Linked DNA regions of Homo sapiens: region 1 is linked to region 2. Evidence: fine-mapped expression QTL. A gene starts in region 2. The other region holds a variant in brackets. All regions are shown on one strand. Distances are between the middles of the regions. Region 1 overlaps PCMTD1-DT (PCMTD1 divergent transcript). Region 2 holds the start of PCMTD1-DT (PCMTD1 divergent transcript).

Evidence for each region. PIP is the estimated chance that this variant, and not a neighbour inherited with it, causes the effect.
Region 1: its variant is fine-mapped to the expression of PCMTD1-DT in whole blood (INTERVAL, PIP above 0.99).

What each region holds. Positions count from the first base shown.
Region 1 is chr8:51,924,885-51,933,353 of GRCh38, forward strand. All of the region lies in intron 2 of PCMTD1-DT (PCMTD1 divergent transcript), which reads left to right. Among named protein-coding and RNA genes, the nearest start is that of PCMTD1-DT, 30 kb to the left of the region's middle. RefSeq lists an enhancer at 146-1,345 and a silencer at 8,268-8,397. The variant C/T (reference allele first, on the strand shown) is at 4,960.
Region 2 is chr8:51,895,427-51,903,895 of GRCh38, forward strand. It overlaps PCMTD1-DT (PCMTD1 divergent transcript), which reads left to right and starts at 3,889. Exons shown (of 4, transcript NR_189279.1): 1 at 3,889-4,420. PCMTD1 (protein-L-isoaspartate (D-aspartate) O-methyltransferase domain containing 1) reads right to left here and starts at 3,610. Exons shown (of 6, transcript NM_052937.4): 1 at 3,504-3,610. RefSeq lists a silencer at 3,117-3,806 and enhancers at 3,847-4,136, 4,307-4,366, 4,667-4,726.

The sequences.
Region 1 (8,469 bases), 29 kb after region 2:
AATGCCAATCACTGACTCAATGAGTATTGCCAGGGAAGAAGGCTTTATTGGGTGCTCAGTGGAGGAGAACAGGAGGTCAGTCTCAAATCTGTCTCTCCAACTGACCAAAATTGGGATGTTTATGATGCAGGATTTTTTGCTCCTTAGTTCACCTAACATCCTGGTTCTTGTTACATAACCAGGAAAAATTAGGCATGTGGAAACATTGAAAGGTGAGGAGAGCAGAATTTATTAAAAGAAAGCTCTCAGTGAATAAAAAGGGGGTCCTGACAGCAGGCTCCCACCTCACAGATTGAATATCAGGGCACCACACATACAAGCTGAGGAGTCCAGGCTCCTCCCTACTGCATAAGGTGCTGATCCCTGGTGGCTCCACCCCATACTCCCAGTGTGCAGGCAGGCCCCCAGTCCATTGTGGGCATGTCCAGACAAGGCCCTGGGCATGTTCCCCCTCTGCACAAAAGCATCTGATATGAACACTTGTGGGATGGATTGGAGATTCTCCAGGTAGCCTCCCTTATCTGCCTCCTGCATCTATCATTTATATAGAGGGGAAGGCAGGGAAAACAGAAATTAGGGAGGAGTAAGGAAGCAATTATGATGGATACGAGGTCTGGCATCTCATTGTCTGGATGCGGTGATCTGACGAGTTTTAGTCCCTTGCCTGAGGGTCAGTTTCCTGAAGAAGGAACACAGTTAAGACAAATATAAGTTTTAAATATTAAGATGGAGGGTCCATTTCTGTGTTATTCAAAAACCCATATATATCATTTCTATGAGACAGTTGGGCCTATTTCAAACTCATATCACAGGAAGCAAGAAACCATTGTCTGCCCTGTGGGCCCAAACAAAGTTTGTCCCAGGTTACTGAGTGTTTTTCAAGCCCATCGAATTCCCCTAAAACTAATTTACTACTCCCTAAAATAATCTACACTTTTCCATCGTCCTTTCCCCTAAGAAGAAAGGTATATAACCATCTGTATACTTTATGCGTGATGCAGCAATCACTCTGTGATTTCTCCTGCTCCCTGCACACTAATCAATGGGTATGCCATTTCTCCTATCAATCTGCCTTTGTCAGTTTATTTTCAGTGAACCTTCAGAGGTTGAAAGGAAAGTTTTCATTAGTCCCTACAGAATGAAAGAATGAATAATCGTATTTCCATTTATAGTTGGGGAAACAGAATAGAAACTTACAGGTGTTGCTCAAGGTCACCTAATTTTGGATTTAATCCCAATTCTCATTCCAAAGCCCATGATTTATTCTGTGCATTAACAGTTCATTCTTTTTTTAAAATAATTTTTTTGTGTGTGTTTATAGAGACAGTGTCTCACCATGTTGCCCAGGCTGGTCTCAAACTTCTGGGCTCAAGTGATCCTTCTGCCTCAGGCTCCCAAAGTGCTGGGATTATAGGCATGAGCCATCACACCCAGCTAGTTGTAACTTAAGCTTTAGCCACATGAAGACTACCAGAAGAGCTCCTCAGGTTGAGACAGAAATAATACAGGGTGGTCACAGGAGAAAATTCTAGGCAGCAGTTTCACATGGCTAGCCAAAGAAAACTGTTGAAATGGCTGCATGAGCTAGGGGATGAGAAAACCTGAAAACCAGGGAGTGGACCAAGCTTACTGAGACCAACTGGACCCAACATGGTGCTGGATTTGACCTAGGTTTTACCTAGGACCTCATTATATGCTCAGTAAAACATTAAATCCATTACCCACCAGTGCCATGACAGTTTTGGGAACATCTATATTTGGGGTAAAAATAGGTGGTACCGCAGTTCCAAGGAATCTTCACCTTTTTCCAGGAATCGGTGTGAATATTCCTTGGTTAAAGAAGTAGAAGCCTCAAACCCCATTGGGTGCTACTCTCTCTCGAGTACAGTTGCACTCCCTACTCCCCTTTCTTGATTACTTACTTCTTGCTTCGCAATAAATCCCCATAGCCTGCGAGGTCAAGGTTACAGTGAGCCTTGACTGTGCCACTGTACTCCAGCCTGGGCAACAGAAGGAGACACTGTCTCAATCCATCCATGCATCCATCCATCCATCCATCCATCCGGGTATTGCAAGGAGTTAAAAAAAACTCCCACACAAATTTAGGTTTTATTTTCAGATAAGCTCTTCTATCCATCCAGAATGAAAAGGTATCACAGGTTACTCACTTGAAGCTGCATCCTCCTTAGAGGAACTTTCACAGAAGCTGTGTCCCATCCTCCCTTTGCTGATTTGAAGCCCAAATTTCAACCCATGCAGAATCTTTTAGGGAAATTCTCAAGACCGTAATTATATTTTACCACTATAAAGGTGGACTGTAGTTTCTGCAGGTGACCACGTTGAAAAACATTTCTTCTTTTACTGAAAATTAAACTACTTCCTACGTATTCTTTGCAGAGAGGACCAAGAGCTGGCTCTGAGTCTCTAAGTCCCAGTAGTGTGGGGAGTGACAGCCTCCACCCTAGTGTCCTGGGCTCCACCCCCAGCAATTTGAAGTTGCAAGGTCTCAGACAGCACCCAGAGTTTTGGGGACTTCTTTTCCAAGTGTGAAAGGAGGCTCCTTTCCAATCATTATGTTTTAAATTTACTTCAGAGCTCCAAGGGACCACTGACAGAAGAGTTTTTTAATAGTCTTTTTATTTTTCACCCAGAGTAACATTTAAAAATAACAAGATATTTTATGCATCAGTTGCTTCACATCTTCTACTGGAGCAAACTTTTTGTTGGTAGTGTTTTGTTGTTGGCTGATGTTTCAAAGTTCCAAGAACTTGAGCCTCAAACCTCACAGAGAAGTGACTACAAAAATGTTCTTTCCTTATTTATCATGAGGCTAACAATAGTACCTACCTCACAGGCTCATCTAGAAGATTCCATAAGTCAACGTTGATTGTAAAGCACTCAGGTCACTGCCTGGCACATAAGGAGTGCCATTTATCAGTTTGTGAAGTGAAACCATGGTCAAGTTTTGTAGTGGCTGCTTTGCCCTGGCCAAGGGAAACTGCTGCTTTCTTTTATAGCTGTTAGTAGCATTAAATTGCAACTCTACCTTTCTTATTTAGGGGTACTAAGGGGGGAACTTCACTTTGTGACAAAAATATAACAAAATCTTAAGCATACAGAAGTGCTAGAACAAGGTGTAAAAACAAAAAGAACATCTGTATTAGTCCATTCTCACACCGCTATAAAGAACTACCTGAGACTGGATAATTTATAAAGAAAAGAGGGTTAATTGGCTCACAGTTCCATAGGCTGTACAGGAAGCATGGCTGGGGATGCTTCAAGAAGCTTACAATCATGGCAGAAAGTGAAGGGGAAGCAAAGACATCTTCACATGGCCAGCAGGAGAGAGAGAGAGAGAGCAAAGGGGGAAGCCCTACATACTTTTAAACAACCAGAGCTAGTGAGAACTCACTCACTATCACCAGAACAGCAGGGGGGTAAATTGACCCCATGATCCATTCATCTCCAACCAGATCCCTCCCCCAATATTGGGGATTACAATTCAATATGAGATTTGGGTGTGGACACAAATCCAAACCATATCATCACCTTATGCTTTTGTTCTGTTCCCATGTTGGCATTTATCTGGAGCCTGGAGTAGCAGTGCCAGATATTCCTTATGACAGTTTATCAAAGCCGGCTTTGCAGAGGTGAAGGAAGCATGGCCACATGGCAGTGAGCCAAGAGCGCAAACTGTGGGATCCAAGAGTGGCCAAGGCTTTCTTGCTACATGTAGGAAATGGTATTTTTGATACACATCTCAGATAATTCTGATAGAGGTAGCTTTGTTACAGACCACAGGCTCTTTGGCTACCCATATAATGGAAATTAACTCATGGCCAAGCAGATTTTCCAGATAAGACTTTTATTATGGGGCTTATGCTCAAGTGCAAGGGAGACAGCAACGGTGAGAAAGATCCTCTGGCTAGCTCCCAAAGAAACGCCATTAGGGATTTTTTTTTTTTTTAATTAGACAAAACATGGGAATTGATTTCAAGACTAGTGTATGCAGGCTGGGCTGGGCAAAGCATGTGAAGGGTAGGGGATGCAGGTCAGCATGTCTGGTTGTGATGGTTCTCTTGAGTAATGAACCACCTGGTGGTCTGGTGGGGGCAGCGAAGCAGTAATCAATTTTTCAGTTTTTCTTCCCAAGGAAGGACACTCGCAACCTTGTTTGATGTTTAGCTCTCCTAAGGTCAGTTTCTGGAATTCTCTAAGTAAAAGGAATGGTTGAACATTATGAGAGCACAGAAGAATGGCTATTTGCTTTGTGTGACAGAAGCCTCAGGGTTAATGGGTATACCATCCATGAAGTAGTGGTGTGGGTTTTGTGAAGAGAAGAAAAAAATAAAAAATGTATGAAGGAGAAGTCATGTCCCACTCCTGTTCATCAGTCTGAGGATTGCACTTTGAGAAACACAAGTCACCCTTATTAAATTTCAATCAAACTTATAACTTTTGAATATATATTGTAATTTTATGTATTTATTTATTTAATTTATTTATTTATTAGTGACAGAGTCTGACTTTGTCTCCCAGGCTGGAGTATAGTGGCATGATCATAGCTTACTACAGTCTCAACCTCCCGGGTTCAGGTAATCCTCTTGCCTAAGCCTCTTGCATAGCTGGGACTACAGGCATGTGCCACTACACTTGGGTAATTTTTAAATTTTTTTTAGTAGAGATGGGTCTCACTATGTTGCCTAGGCTGGTCTCGAACTCTTGACCTCAAGCTATCATCCCACCTTGGCCTCCCAAAATGGAATTACAGGCATGAGCCACCATGTCTCTCCCATATTATAATTTAATTGGACAAATTGCCTGAGCTTTTCCATTCTTTGTCATTTTAGATGAGATGGAAATAAAAGACTTAGTAACAGTTATGCTGGAATCTTACATGCAAATGCATGTTCTTTGAATAAGAGCAGGTTTCTTTATTTAGCATTTCTAATTTAATCC[C/T]TGACATTAAACCACATTAGAGTCTTTAATTCTTTTACTGTTTTATAAACTGCTGAAAAGCAATTGAGAGATTCAAGCAACTCTGGTGCATGTATTTTTAAAAACATACCATTTGTCTAGGTGTGAGCCCAGCATCTAAGCAATGAGTGTAATTTTGTACCCTGGGATTTTGTTTAGTGTGCCTGCAATACACCATGGAAGAAAGTCCAACAATGGTTTAACTAGGTTTATCAAAAATAAGGAAAAATTCAAGATGGATCCTGCTATTAAAATACGTATTCTTTTAGCCATAGCATGTATTTAGTACATGAAAGTGTGTGGGGTTTTTTTTTTTTTTGAGTTGATAAACATGAGAATATTTGCAGGTGAATATTACCCAAGGCTTAATTTGTAACTTTGTCCTTATGTAAGTATTGGAAAATGGCTCATGTCCGACAATTTTTAAAAAACAGAGCCATAAATAAATATCACATCTCGTAGAATTAATGGTTTTCCCCAAGATGAAAATTACAGGAAATAGAACTGTTGAATTCTAGGAAGTTGTCTACACCAAAGACAATGGCATTTTAAATCTTGACATTCCTTTTAAGTCACGCCTTTTTAGATAAGCATGTGGGACAGTGGGGGTTATCTACAGTGAATTTTGGTTATGTTTTTGGTATTACAAAAGCTCTGATCTTTTCAAAATGCTCAAGTTTACTATGTTATGGCCCAGCACCCTGCTAGTCTTAGTTGAAAATAAAAAGGAGCGTACCACTGAAAAATCAGTGTTTGTTTTCTTCACTATCTCTTAAAGAAAAAGAATGCCATTTAGTTAAAAAAAAAATGTCTTCTGTCTTCCAATATGACATAACAGAACCTTGAAGGATTTATATCTTGGAAGGTGAAACCAGCATTCCCTGGTTAAAATGATTAATTTACAAAACCAACAGAAGGTGAGGAGTAGAGGAGCTACAGTGTCACACTGCAAGGGAGAGAAAAGCGAAGTTGTTACCCTATTTAAAACAAACAAACAAACAGATAGAGAGAAAGAAACTCAGAAAATGCACACAGGAAGTGATTAGCGGCAATTGAACAAATGGCAGGTGTTAAATGAAACAGCATCAGGACTAAGGCTAAGTGAAATCATACAGGCTCTGAGTGATTTTATTAAGGATGATATTTATGACTTAAGTTTGGAACAGTGCATCAAGAAGATTCAAGAGTAAACTCCCTGGCCTCATCATAGGTGAGGGCATTGTCTTTTTGGCCTGAGCTATTTCCTTAGCCTCTTAAGTGACCACTCCGTTCTCAGTCTCTCCCAACTCCAGCCCAACTTTCGCATGACCACCGTGACCACCCTCTACGTTAAGGCCTTTATATCTTGACTATTACTTGGAGAAAAAATCCCAAACTTCTTAATAATAGTAACCCGGCCGGGCATGGTGGCTCACGCCTGTAATCCCAGCACTTTGGGAGGCCAAGGTGGGTGGATCACCTGAGGTCAGGAGTTTGAGACCAGCCTGGCCAACATGGTGAAACCCCATCTCTACTAAAAATACAAAAAATTAGCTGGGTGTGGTGACGGATGCCTGTAATCCCAGCTACTGAGGAGGCTGAGGCAGGAGAATTGCTTGAACCTGGGAGGTGGAGGTTATAGTGAGCCAAGATTACGCCGTTGCACTCCAGCCTGAGCAACGAGGGTGAAACTCCGTCTCAAAAAATAAATAAATAAATAAACAAAAAATAACCCATAATAGTTTGGAACTGTAAGATCTATGTAAAACTGAGCAAACCCTGGCAACTTTACAGTCTGTGGAAGACCAATAGCCCTGAAAGAGTTATAGGGATTTCAGGGCCTGTTCTGCCTTCACACTTCTGTGCAAAGGCTGTCCTTGGGTACCACCAAGTTGTTTTGATTCCTTGGAAACCTAGTTCCAAGGAAACCTAGTTCCAAGGAAACCTAGTTTCTTGATCAGTTTCCAGAAGAAAATAAATCAGTGATATGGTCACACAATGTGTCTACTTTGGGGTATACAGAGTCACTGAACACCTGTGGTTCTTTCTTGAGGAGGAGCTACACTGTGTACAGGCTAGACACAGTGGTTCTCTCCCTCCCTTTTCTCTTCTCTCTCCACATTCTTCCCTCATCTCCTTCTTTGGGGCAAAACAAAGCTTCTCTCACTGTTGCATGTGAGGCTTTTAGCAATGCTTTCAGCTGCCTGGACATGACTTTTGGGTCTCACCATCTATCTCAAGGTGCTAAAGCATTCTTCCCACTAAAGAGAATTCTCCAGTGCTGGGTATTTTCTTGTTGTCCCTCAGAATTTTCTTGCTGTCCTGCTCTGTGGTCCAGGAAGGGTGGGAACTGCATCAGCAAAAACCTCTTATCTTAGGCCTCCAGGTTGGTTCAACCAATGGGAGGCAGCAAGAGATGGCACGGGCCTGGGGGAAGGCAAGTTGTGGCAGGGACCTCCCCTGGCGCCTGCTCTGCACCAGGTCCTGAGGGTGCTCTGTGTTTCTTCTAGTTGTCCTCTCTGGGTTCTGATCTTCCTTCCTTTGCTCCTTCAGGCCTAGGGCTGGCAAAGGCTCTCTAGGGGGTGACATTATTCCTTCTTGGTATCTTTAAACTCAGACCCACCTTTGCAGATAACTTGTTAATACTCCTCAAATAAACCAGCTTGAGTATGCCAAGACCCTGACTTCCTATGAGGGATATGGTGCCTGACGTTGTGACAGTCATAGTTTCTCCACTTGCTGACACATAGCGTAGGAAGCATTTACAGTGCAGCCTCACTTTATGTTCCCATGCTCACCAAACCTCCTACCTTTCTTTGACCCTAACAGTGTTTTAACTTCATGTCTTTGTGCACTTGGGGTTTCCTCCTGCAATGGGGTGCCTTTTCCTCCTTTTCTGCCTAGCACCAATCTCTTTATCTTCAAGATCCCTCACAAACGTCACTTGTCTGAGAAGCCTTTCCTCTTACCTCCTCCCTAGAAAGACTTGAACTCTGTGCTTCCATGCAATAATTTATGGCATGTCTGTCTCCCCACAGAAATTATATCTTCATTCATTTATTCATTCCCCCCAAACGAATATCAGTTATCCTCTATGTTCCAGGCACTGTGATAAATTCATGGAAACACAGCATCAACAAAACAAAGTCCCTGCCCTCATGGAGTTTATATTCTAGTGAGGGGACAAACAATACACCTGTGAACAAGTAGATTGATGATTATCCAGTAAAGGTGAGTAGTATTGAGATAAATGAAGCAGGCCAAGAGATGACCTGTGTTAGAATGAGAAGTCTCCAGATAAGGACAGGACTGTTGCCAGGAGGTCTGAGTGAAGAGCTGGTAGTTGAGCAGAGACCTGGATGATGTGAGACTATCTGAGGGTAAATCTTTTAGCCACAGAAACAGCAGTGCAATAGTCCTGGGGGTGGGGAGGAAGTGTGCTTAGTATGTTTGAGGAAGGGCACAGAACCAGTGGGTTGGGGAAGCATGAGGATGTGAGATGAGGTCCACTCA
Region 2 (8,469 bases):
TTATGCAAATTAGTTTTTAAACTCCAAGAATATTTTAAGCTCTAGAAATCATACCTGATGCATGTCTTGTATCAAGACATAAAGTTGAGTTATTTCTGGCTACCCGTGCATAATGTTCCAAAAAGGATTTTCAGGTTAAACTGGAAAATATGCTATGTCTTCCCATCAGCAATACCTCTCATTAATTTTTGAGAATACACATACACATAGTGTTTGATTCACAATCCTTCCCCACTTCAACAGCTGAAAAAATCTTACCATATTCTAAAAACGTCTTTAGGGGGCTGAAATATTTCTGTGTCACCTAATTATAAAACCCACTCACATCCAACATCCAATGTTACGTTGACCGAGAGATAATCAATGGCAGATACGCCATTTAGGTATGAATCCAATTATCATCCTTAACAATTGCCAGTAAAATGTCAAAGCTTTTCCTGTATTTTTGGTTTCTTCTCAAATACAGATTACAACTGACCATACTTTATTAATGTTAGTATTTGTCCCATTTCTTTTTTTTTTTTTTTTTTTTTTTTTGAGACAGAGTCTCACTCTTTTGACCAGGCTGGAGTGAAGTGGAGCGATCTTGGCTCACTGCAACCTCTGACTCGCAGGTTCAAGCGACTCTCCTGCCTCAGCCTCCCGAGTAGCTGGGATTACAGATGCCCACCACCAAGCTCGGCTAATTTTTGTATTTTTAGTAGAGACGGGGTTTTGCCATGTTGGCCAGGCTGGACTCGAACTCCTGACCTCAGGCGATCCACCTGCCTCAGCCTCCCAAAGTGCTAGGATTACAGGCGTGAGCCACTGCCCCCGGCCGCCACATTTCTTCCAACTATGTAGTTGCCACATCTAGTGGAAAATGAAAAAAGATTAATAAACCATATTATGACACCCTATTGTCTGTCATTATGCATTTTAAGTGACTACCAAATATTTTAAAATACCAATAATTACATAAGTAAATTTTAATCCTTTTAGACTTTTTTAGGGCCCTCTTGGTATTCTTTCCAGCACACTAATTTACAAAAAAGTTCAACTACGTTCATAAAAATGTTTACTGATATGAGACTATCCTTCCGAGTTTGTAAGCAATACGCAGCTGTGAGAGCTACAATTTACAATAACATCCCAATTTACCATGGCACCCAGCAGTGTCTAAAGTAACACAAATCCCCATCTTCTTGGTTAACAGCATAAGATCAAGGAGTTTAAAATTTTAGTAATATGCCACCAGAAACCTCATCTAAAAAAATACCATTATAGTTTCACACTATATTCTCTAGACTATTTTAAATGCATGTGATTACATTCATGTAGTTATTCTGTAAGGAACATTTCAAAGAAAGCAGAAAAAACCGTAAGGGCAACAATTTTTCGTTCATAGGAGGTAAAACAAGAGCAGAAAACACAGGTTCTTGGATTAAGCACTCCTGAATATAAACACGCACTATTACAAAAAAAAAAAAAAAGCAATGGGATCTTGAGCAGTTCTTTTACTCAAAGCCTCTATTTATTACTCTATAGAATGAGAAGAATGTCATTTATGTTGTTATGAGAAATATATGAGCATATTATTACCAAAAATAACTAAAATGTCATGGATTTTTTTATTCCTTTCGAGCACAGTTTCCAAATCATAAAATACTACACAATTTGGCTTAAAATTTCAGGCTATGCATGTTTAGAACCAGACGTTGTTCGTGATTATCTTCCTCAGTTGTTCTTTCCCTGGAAGCTAGCACCAAGATGAACACAGTACATTTTTAATAAATACAAGCTAGTGATTAAATCAACAAAGCCTCCAGCTCTTCTGCACACAGAAATACAGTATGCAATGGGAATTTCCTAGCTTTCTGTCTTACTTAATAGTAGGCAGTGTAGTATCACCCCTCCACTTCCAGTTTACTCCCTATAGCTTACTTACCAAAATATTTAATCCCTGTTGCTTTTTTTTTCTTGTCTCAGGCTAGGGCCACTAGCTTTCTATCTTTCCTACCTTACCTTTCCTTCACATATTAGCTACTTCATGTTAAAGAAATTACAAGTGTTCAACTGACCATATGGAATTAAAATTTACTTAGAAAAAAATGAAATAAAAAAAACCAAAAAGTAAACTAATTCAGCAACTTTATGTTTTATGGAGTCATCTAGCCTCATGTAAACTACCATTAAGCAATACGTAAACATATTAATCTGCTTAATACGAAAGTAATGTCGTCTGGCCGCAGACATTCTGAAAGTTTTGCCACATTGTTTCAAAATATTGGCTTGTAGCCCTTTTCAAAGCTACTGATTATTGAAAACTTGGCGACCATGTTTAACAATGAAGAAAAGGCTTCCCCAAGCCTACGTAGATTGGATTCTCTAATACATAGTAATAATGTTTTTTAAAATAATGAGGTGTGTAATAAAATGGAGGAATATCCATGATGCATTGTTGGCTAATAAAACGATATACTGTACTATATATGATCCCAATCTTGTTTCTAAAGCACACTCATTAAATGCACAGAAAAAAAAAATCCTGAATAACTACCCACCACACTTGGAGACTGGCTACCCTGGGTAGTAAGAAGGAGAAATATGGGGGGAAGGGCGCGAGAGAGGGCAGGTTTCCTCATTGTTTGGCTGCTTCATGTTTTTCTCAAGGAGCAAGCAGTACTTTTGTAATTAAAAAAATAAATAGGGGAAAAACACTGCTAAAAGCATACTTTTTTCCTCCGTAGCAAATTCTTCTGATTTGTAATGTTAAAAATATATCTCTGGTTTCTCGATTCTAAAAAGAGGACACACGAAAACAAAATTATAGAAGTTCCAAAAAATCTTGGATTTGCAAAATTACTCCCTCGGGTTCTGCCCGTGGGTCCTCCCCATGCCGGTGTCTGAAATTCCCCAAGCAAAACGCGGGCACTGCACTTCCCCGGAACGGTAGTAGACGCTCAAAAACACAAAAAGAGGCCTTGGCGCCTGCTATAACCTCTCAGTCCCCTCCCAGCCCCCGAGACTTCCCCGAGTCTACGTAGACTGGATTCTCTGCCTCCAAAACCAAAACAGAAGTCACTGGGCGGATCCAAAACGGCCCTAAGGGGCCCGCGGGCATCTCAAGACGCCAGCCTCGGGACTCTGGTCCCCAAGCCCAGGTCAGAGCCGAGGACGAGCCGAGGACGGGCCGAGGACGCGGCGCCCCGGCCTCCCTCGGGCCCCCGACCTCCCCGGCCCCAGGGACCCCGGCTCCCGACCTCCAGGCTTCGCTGGGCCCCTTTCGACTCCCCGACCTCCCAAGTCCTCCGCCCCCGGCCCGTCCTTCCCCCAACCTGCCCCGCAGCGCCTCAGTTTCCTGGCCCCCGACCTGCCCGCCCTTAAGTCCCCCTGCCCCCGACTCTTCGGCTGCCGTCCCCCTGGCCCTCTGGCCTCCAAGCGCATCCCAGTCGCCCGCCCGGCCCTAGCACGCGGGACTCGCACACCCCACGACCCCGAGCCCCCACTGGCGGCGGCGTTACCTGTGGCGCGGGCAGCGGCGCGCAGGCCAGGCGCTAGGACTCGGCGGGGTCCGCAGCAGCCAGACGCCGCTACCACCACAATAACAACACGGACGCCACCGCCGAGTGGAGAGGCGGGGCCCGGACCCGCGACTGGAGCAGCCAGAGCCTCCCGGACTCCGGAGCCGCCGGGGTCCGGGCATGCGCAGAGAACCACGGGCACAGGGGCAGCTCCCCGCGGACGCCAAAGTCAACAAGGCCGGGAGACGCCCCCATCTGGCCCCGCCCCCCTCAGGGCTCGCTCCGCCCCCAAGCCCAAACAACGCGAGGCCTTGACAGGCCAGAAGACGATGGCGGTAGGGGAGATCACGCGAGAGCATGGCCTCCACCTCTCCTCCCCACCGCCATCTCCACGTTCTCGCACCGGCGCTGGGGTGCAGGCTTTCAGTGGTCTCAGGGCTACGGCTTGTCGGTGCCTCGCCGCACAGTCCCCTTTGCATTGAAGGACACGGTCTTACGGTGTAGGAGCATTTTTGAGGTGCATTCCTGGATTTGGAGGCGAACCCCCAATGGTTACCTCCACAGAGGCTTTGCGAAGGGCGCTCACTGACTTAGGTGAAGAGCGAAGGCTCAAGACTGTGCCGCTTTATAGTGGCCCCTTGACGTCCAGAAGTTCCCCCCAGCGCCGGTCATAAGCACTCCCGCCGCCTGGGCCCCGCCCTGCCTGCCAGGCGCCCTCCAGCCTCAGCTCCCGGACGCCCGGCGTGGCCGCTTTCTCGCGTCTTGCTGACCCGGGCCGGGGGCGTGTGCTCCTCCTGCAGCGGACGGAAGATGCTGGGCCACGCAAGTTTCCCTGGGCTTGGTTAACCACCCCAAAGCCCATTTCCAGAAGGAAAGGGTGTTGAGGAGGAGGGATAGAAAGTCGAGAAGAGGGCCGGGTGAGTGGCTCACGCCTGTCATCCCAGCACTTTGGGAGGCCGAGACAGGCGGATCACCTGAGGTCAGGACTTAGAGACCAGCCTGGCCTACATGGTGAAACCCCGTCTCTACTAAAAATACAAAAATTAGCCGGGTGTGGTGCCGTGCGCCTGTAGTCCCAGCAACTCGGGAGGCTGAGGTAGGAGAATCGCTTGAACCCGGGAGTCGGAGGTTGCAGTGCTGAGATGGCACCTGGCCTGGGCGGCAAGAGCGAAACTCCATCTCAAAAAAAAAAAGAAGAGGAAATGAGGCATAGGGGCAGGCGAGCCGGGAAAATATTGCTACTAAGGATCCTAAGCAGTGAACATGCTGTTAATACTTGTAAGACTCCTAGCAAACTGCATTTAATTTTTTAAATTAGTTTTAGTGTACATAAAGGCATGTCTTTTCCAAATACTGTACTTTTTGAAGTGTTCTTTGTTGTTCATTAATCTTTGTGCGTTTCCCTTCAGTCTCTAATAGTAGGTTGTAGCATGATTTGCTTCCATCGTGTGAATTCTGTTCGGTTTTGATTTTCAAGTATGAGAGTGAGCGTAAGCTACCCTTATAGGTTACCTAAGGTAAGTTAGAATTAGAACGTCTTTATGCTAGGGTTACTACTCCCCACCATAACCAACCATCTGCAAAAGCGTTCAGAAAGAACATGCTAGCAAGGTCAAAAGCTTCAAATCACGAAATAAGAACTTGAAAACGAGCAAAATTGCTGCTGAGGCGCTCTGCCATTTAACTCAAAGGCTTCACTTTATTTAGGTTTAAAGTATGAGTGCATATTCAGTGGACATTGAGCTCCGAACTGTTCAAAATCTCTATTCATCTGCATTCTGGAGTAGAGCTGCGGGTCACATTATTAGCTCCATCTTTGGATTTCTGCCTGGACCCAGGGCACTCCTAACCGTTGTGGGATCATATAACAATCTTACAGGATGAATTTTCTGTTAGTCCAAGCAGAAATTTTGGCACATGAAAACTATCTTACCATAAACAAACAAAAAAAGTACAAATGGTAATCTAAGGAAAATAGCTAAAATCATTAAACAACTCTTACAGCCGTTTCCCCTGTTTTCTCTCCATTTTTTAAAAGCATATTTTCCTTTACTTTCTTCCTTCTGCTATGGGAATTTTTCAGGGTTCTAGACCTTTTTTCTCTTCTGCGGCTGGAAAGTTAAACACAGGTCATTTTTTAAATAAGACTGCTAGTAAATACCTTCTTAATAAACAACACCAAATGCTAGTCTTGTGGGTGAGTAGTTGAACAGCAAGTAAAGCACTCTATCACCTGTAATTTTCCTGTGGTAGGCACACCCCATCTCTACCTTCACGTAATTTCTGATTATGCCTCCATACCTTACACATATAATTCATTTGTGGGTGGGGGCGACAGAGTCTTTTGCTCTTTTGCCCAGGCTGGAGTGCAGTGGCAACCTCTGCTCACTGCAACCTCCACCTCCCGGCTTCAAGCAGTTCTGCCTCAGCCTCCCAAGTAGCTAGGATCACAGGAGCGCACCACCACCCCCTGCTAATTTTTGTATTTTTAGTAGAGATGGGGTTTCCCCTGTTGGCTAGGCTGGCCTCAAACTCCGATCTCAAGTGATCCACCCGCCTCGGCCTCCCAAAGTGTTGGGATTACAGGCATGAGCCACCACGTCTGGCTATAATTCACTTCTTGTGTGTGACTTCCTACTAATTTGTAATCATGAAAGTTGGGCACATACCCAGTATGCTCACTATTTCTCTGCAGGGCCTGATACAGTGGCTGCTACAACACTGATACTCTGCATTTGTTGAATGAGTAATTTAAATTTTAAATTATCATCTAGAATCATTTAGAGATTTATTTAGACTTTGATAAATTTAGATAACCCACACACAGTTTATTCCTAGAGTTCTTGATACATTGTTACAGTAAGTTTGGTCCTGGCAACAGCAATAACACTTACTGTAATAACTTAATTCTTCATACGAGGTTGCTTCACTTTTATTATTAAGCAGAAAATACCCAAAGTAAAATTGAGCTATTTGGGACTCCTTTCAGAATACTGTGTAGGCTGAAGCATTGTTGTATCAGAAGTGCTCTGTTATTTGAATGCATAAGGTATTCAACAAACAAATGCTTATTAAATTAAATGGTATTCAGCATACAGCTACTGTCACCGTGCTAGGAGTTCACATTTTTCATATGCGTGGCAGTTAGCACTGGTGCATGTTTCCTTCAGCCTCAGAAATGGAGGTGTCTGCGTGTTGCCCAGATCTACCTTGAAAACTCTAGTTGCTTCCTAACACCTAGGTTGTATAGTGGGACTTGATTATGTTTTATAAAGCCAAGTCTGGTCTGTGAGGACTGAAAGGATTTCCTCATCTTAACTCTAATTTGGCCTGCAATGTCTGGGGAAAACCCAAAACTAAAATGTAACTAAATGTGGAACTGTTTTTTTCTGCAGTTTGATTTCCTTGTACCATTTTCAGTACAGTTAAATTCATCACCTCCCCTACCTCACCATCCCCCTCCCCCTGCAAAAAAAAAAAAAGCAAAAACAGAAGTATTTTCTCTCTTAAAGAGAATTGTCATTGGCCAGGCACAGTGGCTCACGACTATAGTCCCAGCCCTATAGGAAGCAGAGGTGGGAGAATCATTTGAGCTCAGAAGTTGCAAGATTTCAAGATCAGCCTGAGCAACATAGTGAGACCTCATCTCTGCAAAAAATTTAAAAATTACCTGAGTGTGGTGATGCATGCCTGTAGTCCCAGCTATTCCAGAAGCTGAGATGGGAGGATTACTTGAGCCCAGGAGTTAGTTTCTAATTGGATGTAGTCTGCACAGGCAGATTTCATTTTCAGTATTAAAAAGGTCAGTAATTTCTGAAATATTCACTTGACAATTAATAGGATTAAATGACTTTGGGAAAGCATAATTTTATTTTAAATTGCACATATAATCCCTCAATTACATAGATTTTAATGCTAGGATAATCTTCCAATAAAAGGAAATATAAGTTATCAAAAAATGAATTTCTTTTAGAAAAATAAGCATTTATAATTTATTGTCTACAGTAAACAAAAAGTGACTTTAACTCACAAGTTAAAATTACTCTTATATGGTGCTTAATCTATATAAATATCTTTCCTTTATTAAAAATTCTGCTTCTTAAAAAACAGAATCATGGAGTGGAGAAAAAGGAAAACTTCTGCTTGTAAACTTAAGTGCATCAAAACTGTGGATAAACATCTTTTTAATGTATATGTAAAATTTAATATTTTTTAAAGAATCTATTAAAGTTCAATAAACATTTTCTGACACTATGATAGATGCTGAGGATATTGCAATAATATATGATATAGCTTCTGTCTTAATAAACTTACATTCAAATAATAGAAGGAGGAAAGTGACCCTTGACATAATAGTAAGGGTACAAATAAAATACTCTTGCTCCATAGTAGTGTTCCATGGCAGAAGTCAAATTTGAATCAAGCTTTGAAATTTGAATAGAATTTTTGAATTATGGAGATAAAGAGAATAGCTATTTTAGGAACATGGAATATAAAAGAATAACGCTTACATAGATCATTTGTTTTCAAAGAGCAGAGATTAATCTGATTTAGCTAGAACATAGAATGCAAAAAGGATAATGGGAGCTAAGCCTAGAAAGATAGACTGCAGCCAGATTTTGGTGGTCATTAGATTGGATGCAACAGCCAGCAAGGAGCCAAAACTTAAGTGTTCACTTTTATGTAAATGTAGCTGACGCAAGTACCTTGTATTAGAACTAAAAATTATGCTGTATATAACTATTACTGTAGTTAGGTGAAACCATTTCAGAGTCTGCTTTAGTGATTCATAGTGTAAATGAAGTTACTGTGTTTATGTGTGTGTGTGTGTGCACATTATATGTATGTATGTGTGTTTTTAAGTATGACATTTGAATTCTGAAATGAAGATGAAAAAGGCTTTGGTCAGTAAACCTGTCTTTCTTGGTCAGATACTGAACCACAGTAGTAAGTCCAGGCACTGAAA